Linked DNA regions of Homo sapiens. The protein of the gene in region 1 purifies or fractionates together with the protein of each later gene. This does not show direct contact. Each region holds a gene or a part of one and is shown in the gene's direction. Other genes may lie near its edges.

Region 1 (3,500 bases):
AATTTACTTAATCTGAAAACCAGGGTTTAATAACAGTATGATTAGAATGTTTCATTTATAAAGTGGAGTTGAGATTGTACGTAGTATAAAACATGCTGTTGGAAGATTATCTCCTTTTGAGGAATCTCAAAATCAAGTGGGAGAAATCAAGTAGTCTTGGTGTGTGTGTGTTTTGTTTGTTTGTTTTAATGAGAGACAGGGTCTTACCACATTGCCCGGGCTCGGTTCAAACTCCTAGGCTCAAGCAGCTCTCCTGCCTCAGCCTCCCAAAGTGCTGGGATTACAAGTGTGAGCCACCACACCAGCCTCAAGTAGCTTTCGAGATGATGCCACAGCACTCCAGCCTGGCAACAGAGTGAGACTCCATCTCAAAAAAAAAAAAAAAAATTCAGTTTAACATACCAAGCTTTTGGTCAAATTTCTAGTAGTTTAGAATTTATAATAAGTATGGGTAATTAAAATAAACCATAAACACTTTAAAGTAAGGGAAGATTCATGAGTATACTATTAGAAATAATAACTAGGGCTGGGCGTGATCCTTCCACAGGTAGTTCTAGCTACTTGGGAGGCTGAGATGAGAGTATGACTTGAGCCCAAGAGTTCAAGACTAGCCTGGGCACTATGGTGGGTCCCCATCTCTTAAGAAAGAAAGAATAGGAAAAACTAAATTAGTATAAGAACTAATTACTTAATTTGTATAAGTTATGAATATGCCAAATGCAATTTAGATGCTTTTTCAAAAGAGCACTGGTACTCAGAACCCTGATTCAATTTTTTAATCCTCATAGAATTTTTATATAAAGATTTTATGTTTGTCAGGTTAGCTCTTCATGTCGTATACTTTTTTTTCCAACCTTGTATTTTAATGTGGTGTTTATGTTTATTACACATTTTTTCTTTGTCTTTTTTTTGTGTGTGGATTTGTAGTTTAATGAATAATACCTGCTATTAGCATTCGTTCTAAAAAACAGCATAATAAAGTGTTCCCTACTTGAATTCATTAACCTATCTTTGAAACAGGGTTAAGTGAATTTTGTATAATAAAGAAGCTAATTTTGAGATACAAAATATTTGGCATAAAATTAAATACTGTAGGAATATTTTTATTAAGGTGTGACATACATGTGTATGTGAGTTTTTGTTGTTTGTTTGTTTGAGATGGAGTCTCTGTTGCCCAGGCTGGAATGCAGTGGCGCGCCATCTCGGCTCACTGCAACCTCCGCCTCCCAGGTTCAGGCGATTCCTGCCTCAGTCTCCCTAGTAGCTGGGATTACAGGCGTGTGCCACTACGCCGGGCTAATTTTTTTAATTTTTTGGTAGAGACCGAGTTTCACCATGTTGGCCAGACTTGTCTTGAACTTCTGACCTCAAGTGATCCACCCACCAGCCTCCCAAAATGCTGAGATTACAGTCGTGAGCCATCACGCCCAACCAGTGTAACATATATTTTAAAATATGTAATAGGATGGGCGTGGTGGTTCATTCCTGTAATCCCAGCACTTTGGGAGGCCAAGGCGGACGGGTTGCAATGTCAGGAGTTCGAGACCAGCCTGACCAACACGGTGAAACCCCGTCTCTACTAAAAATACAAAAATGAGCCAGGTGTGGTGGCACGCACCTGTAGTCCCAGCTATTTAGGGGGCTGAGGCAGGAGAATTGCTTGAACCCTGGAGGCGGAGGTTGCAGTGACCTGAGATCGCGCCACTGCACTCCATCCTGGGCGACAGAGTGAGACTGTGTCTCAAAAAAAATAAAAATAAAATATATAATATATCTAAAAAACTATTGGGCAGTAGTAAATTATGGCTGTGGTAGGTACTACCTTACTTTAACAACATAATGCTATAAAAGGAAAGACTTAAACTGGTATTACCCTTTTATAGTCCCTTAGCAACATGCGTAGGATACTACTTGAGGTCATTATATTTCTCTTCACCCTTTATGGCGACATCAAATGATTTGAATGGCTGATCAGCTTTTTTACGAGGGAATTTGTAAAAACTACCCAATAACTCTAATGATGGAAGATGTTAACAAAGGAAGATCTGGGTACAGAGTATATAGGAACTCTGTAATATCTTTGCCACTTTTTTGTAAATCTAAAACTATTTTAAAATTGTTTATTTAAATTCTAATTATTCAACAGTAATTTAGTTCACTAATAAATTGATTTGAAAGAGTCAGTATTTTTTATTCCTACTTTCACTGGAAGAAAATAAATTGAACTTGTTTTCCGCAACTTTTTTTTTTAGGATTCAAGATGACCAACGAAGAACCTCTTCCCAAGAAGGTATGGGTTTTGGTTTTGGGTTTTTTTGTTTTGTTTTGGGTTTTTTGGGGGCTTTTTTAAGCACTTTAAAAAAAAATAGACTTGAAGGGATTATCGTTGTTTGCTTATTTTTCATTTCTTTGCCTTTATAACAATAATAGCATTGGAGTTGTACAGTGTGCCAGATATTGTATCTTATATCCAGTATATTTTTTAGAATATTTTCAGATTTTGGAAAACTTTAGTTATAATAATATTCCCATGGTCTACTCTTAATGTTCATTATGTGAATATTTCCAGGTCTACTCTTAATGTTCATTATGTAAATATTTCCAGGTACATATATACAAATAATGTCAAAAATGGACATTATGAGTATATTATTATTCTTTTCCTAGTGTAAATCCCTTTGATTGTAATTAAAAACTACTTTATTAAAAAAATGGTTATAGCTAATTTTCAAATTCTACCTTTTTCTCTGAAGTTTTGTTGTCTAGTCTCAAATCTCCCCCTGTTGTGCATTCCTACCTTGAGTTTAATTACTCTTACATACACACACATACACACACACAGTGGCTGTTATAAAAGAGGTAACATCGTCTCTAGGAGGAATTTGTGATTCAATTGGGAAAGCTTACTAAACTTAATATTTAAGTGAATAATTTAGATATTACAGAAGTTTCCTATTGTGGAGTCAGATTACTCATTAAATGAATAAAGGATTGTATTATGCTTTCATAATCTGAGAATTACTGTGTGCTCCCTCTGGTACCCTTTGATTTTCCTCCCTTGGAACAGGGTCTTGCTCTCTTGCCCAGGTTGGAGTGCAGTGGTGCAATCTTGGCTTACTGCAGTCTCCGCCTCCTGGGCTCAAGCGATCATCCCACCTCGGCCTCCTGAGTATCTGGGGGCTACAAGTACGTGCCACCACGCCCAGCTAATTTTTGTATTTCTTGTAGAGATGGGGTTTTACCATGTTGCCCAGGCTGGTCTCGAACTCCCGGGCTCAAGAGATAGCCACCTGCCTCTGCCTTCCAAAGTGCTGGGATAATAGGCATGAGCTGCCTCTGGCAGCCTTTCAATATGTTACATTATAATAGTTCCCTCGTTCCATTTTATGGTAATACTATTTTACTGGTTAGTATTATAATTTGAAACATTTTTAAGGAAAAAAATTTAAGTGTCTTGTAAGGGAATACTAATAAAGCCTTTATTTTATTTTTATTTTTTA
Region 2 (3,500 bases), on another chromosome or scaffold:
TTAACTGAAGCAGTTCATTCTTTGGGAGTAAATGATATTTTGGAGATAAAATTTTTTGAAAATCGGGCAAATGGCCAGTCAAAGGGGTAAGTTTTTTTTTTCTTTCTTTTTGATTTAGTAGCTAGTGATACAGTTTTTACAAGTTAACTTTCCTTTAAGTTAATGTTAATTACACATGTATACACATGTATACAAACAACACATGATTGTTTACATTGGAAGGAGGTTCTTGGGCAAAGATTGATACTTTTCATTTTACGTACCCTATTACCTAACACACTAAAACCAGTAGAGTGGAAATGTGGACAGATTTATTTTCTATTTTTCCCAAGTTTTCTCTATCTGTGGTTGAAATGGTTGTTGAAATGACAGTTTAAGAACCATTACTCTCCCTGTGATTAAGAGATGGGAGAAGATGGGCAACTGAATAATGTGTTACATGGATATTTTGCTTTATTTCACTACTAAACTATACAAGTGGGATAGCCTCAGCATGAGAACATTATAAATACAGATATCTAAAAGTAAGAAAATAAAATACCACTGTCCTACCATTCATTGATGTTTACTTTTAACATTTTAGTGAAGATTCTTTTGGGCTTTTTCCTAAAAATAAATAAATAAATAAATAATGGAATTATAATTCATGTGTTTTATATGTTTGATATAAGGAATAAAAATAAATACACATCCTCTCTAATGTCTAATTCTTTTGCATCATACCTGGTATGCTACTGTAATTTACCTTTCTTATTTTTGGTTATCGTGGTGGTTTCCACTTTTGCCTATTGTAAATAATGTTGCAGCAGACATCATTTTATATAAGTCTTTTGGTACAGATTTTGGATTTTCTTTTAAGGATAAATTGTTAGATGCACAATGATAAAGAATTTTCTTATTTCTTATATTGCTTACTTATCTTAGAAGATTATACCAATTTATACTAAACTGAGAATATTTTCAAAATATATGCAGAGTCTGAATACTTCTCACTAACTTTACTTATACCACTTGGTCAAAGCCACTATCATCTCTCACTTAAACTTTGGCAGTAGCTTCCTAACTGGAAGTATAGACTGCCCCCTACAGTCTGTACTCCACATAACAGAAGTTCTAAAAAAAAAATGACATTCTGCTCAATCTTCTCATGGTTTCCTGTCTGTCTCATTCTTTACCATTGTCTACAAGGTACTTTCTGGTCTGTTTTCCCACCACCTTTCTAACCCTATCCTACCACTCTTTTTCAGCCACATTAGTCTCTTTGCTGTTGGCCAGACCAATTCCTACCTAGGACCTTTAGCTGTTTTCTCTTCTTGGTTTACTTTTCCCCCTCAAATATCCACATGGCTTACTCTTTGACTTCATTCAGGACTCAAACTGTTTAAGAGTTTTCTTCCATGACCATCTTGTGCAAAGTAGCACCTTCCTATCCTGTTTCCTTTATTTCTGCTCTGATATATTTTACTCGTTTGTTGTCTCCTCTTCCAAGCCTTTAAGCTTAATGAGAACAGAGATTTTGTTTTGTTCTCTATTACTTCTCCAGCTCTAGAATGGTACCTTGCGTATAAGAAGTGGTGCTTAATAAATATTTGTTAAATTAATTTAGTTTTTTCTAAATGTTGTGACCCAAGATAATCCTGGTGCAAACAGCAGAACTTGTTGACTAAAATAAGAAGGATAATTTAAAAGATCATATTGAACATTAGGGGGAAAAGAGCTTAAGCTTCTTAAGCTACTAAGACCCTCCCTCCCTCAAATAATTTAGAATATCCTGTAACTATACGAATTGGTAATCATTCTGATTATTTTAAATTTGTTTTTCTTTTTGAGGTATAATTCATATGCCATAAAATGCAGGCTTTTAAATGTACAATTCAATGATAATTTATTATATTTATGAAGTTTAGCAACCATTACCACTGTCTCATTCCAGAACATTTCATCACTCCAAGAAGGAACCTTGTACCTGGTTAGCAGTCACTCCCATTTCCTCTCTTCCTATCTGCTGGCAACTGCTAACGTGCTCTGGATATGCCTGTTCTGGACATTTCATCTAAATGGAATCATAAAATACGTAGTCCTATGTGACTGGCTTTTTTCCTTAGCATAATGATTTTAAGGTTCATCCATGTTGAAGCATGCATCAGCATTTCTTTTTATGGCTGAGTAATATTCCACTACATGGATATAGCACTTTTTTCTTTTAATCTATCAGTCGATGGACGTCTAGGTTATTTCCACTTTTGGCTATTAAGGAAAATGCCCCTGTGAATATTTGTGTACCCATTTTGTGTGAACATGTATTTTCAGTTCTGTTGGATGTGTACCTAGGAATGGAATTACTGGGTTAATATAGTAACTCTATGTTTAAATGTTTGAGGAATTACCAGATTATTTGCCAGAGGCATTGTGCCATTTTATTAATACGTGCTCATCAGCAATGTGCAATGGTTCCAGTTTCTCCACATATTTATTTATTTATTTATTTATTGAGACAGAGTCTCACTCTGTCACCCAGGCTGGAGTGCAGTGGCGCAATCTTGGCTCATTGCAACTTCTGCCTCCCAGGTTCAAGCGATTCTCCTGTCTCAGCCTCCCAGCGTGGGACTACAGGCACACGCCACCATGCCTGGCTAATTTTTGAATTTTTAGTAGAGACGGGGTTTCACCATGTTGGTCAGGCTGGTCTTGAACTCCTGACCTCATGATCCTCCTGCCTTGGCCTCCCAAAGTGCTGAGATTATAGGCGTGAGCCACTGCACCCGGCCTCTCCACATCTTTAATACTTGTCTTTTTGATTATAGCCACCCTAGTGGGTATGGGGTGGTATCTTGTGGTTTTGATTTGCACTTCCCCAATAGTTAATGATATTGTACATCTTTTTATTGTAGCAAAAAGTGGAAGCAACCCAAATGTCCATGAACTGATGGATACATTTCTTTTAATGTTGTATATTTATAATGGAAAATTATTCACCCATAAAAGTAAGTGGTGATGCATGCTGTAACAGTGGATGAAGCTTGAAAACATGCTAGTTAAAGAAGGCTGGTCACAAGGGACCTCCTATTGTATGATTCCATTTAGATGAAATGTCTAGGATAGGCCAGTCCAGAGACAGAAATTAGGTTTAGTGGTTCCATAGGGTACAGGGATGGGAAGGAATGGGAGCGATGGCTAATGGATATGGAGTTTCTTTTTGGGGTGATGAAAATGTTTTAAAATTGATTATGGTGGTGGTTATAACACTGTGAAATACTAAAAACCACTGAATTATATATTTTGAATGACTGAATTCTATGGTATGTTATACAAGATGAACAAAAATGTGTACTCGTATAGTTAAGAAATATTTTTAGTTTTTAAAATTATTTATTTTTAGAGACAGGATCTCACTGTGTTGCCCAGGCTGGAGTGCAGTAGTGTGATTATAGGTTACTGTAGCCTCAAACTCCTGGGCTCAAGCAATCCTCGTGCCTCAACCTTCTAAGCAGCTGGGATTA

Evidence for each region. The genes of interacting proteins can lie anywhere in the genome.
Region 2: the proteins of WTAP (region 1) and CPSF6 purify together in Homo sapiens (affinity purification with mass spectrometry; 2 studies listed by BioGRID and IntAct, with this or other methods). This does not show direct contact.

The regions. Positions count from the first base shown.
Region 1 is NC_000006.12:159,734,006-159,737,505, forward strand, and holds part of WTAP (pre-mRNA-splicing regulator WTAP), read left to right. Parts: intron 1-2,252; coding exon of another isoform or gene 2,253-2,260; coding exon 2,261-2,290; intron 2,291-3,500. UniProt on the Homo sapiens protein: Associated component of the WMM complex, a complex that mediates N6-methyladenosine (m6A) methylation of RNAs, a modification that plays a role in the efficiency of mRNA splicing and RNA processing.
Region 2 is NC_000012.12:69,253,069-69,256,568, forward strand, and holds part of CPSF6 (cleavage and polyadenylation specificity factor subunit 6), read left to right. Parts: coding exon 1-86; intron 87-3,500. UniProt on the Homo sapiens protein: Component of the cleavage factor Im (CFIm) complex that functions as an activator of the pre-mRNA 3'-end cleavage and polyadenylation processing required for the maturation of pre-mRNA into functional mRNAs.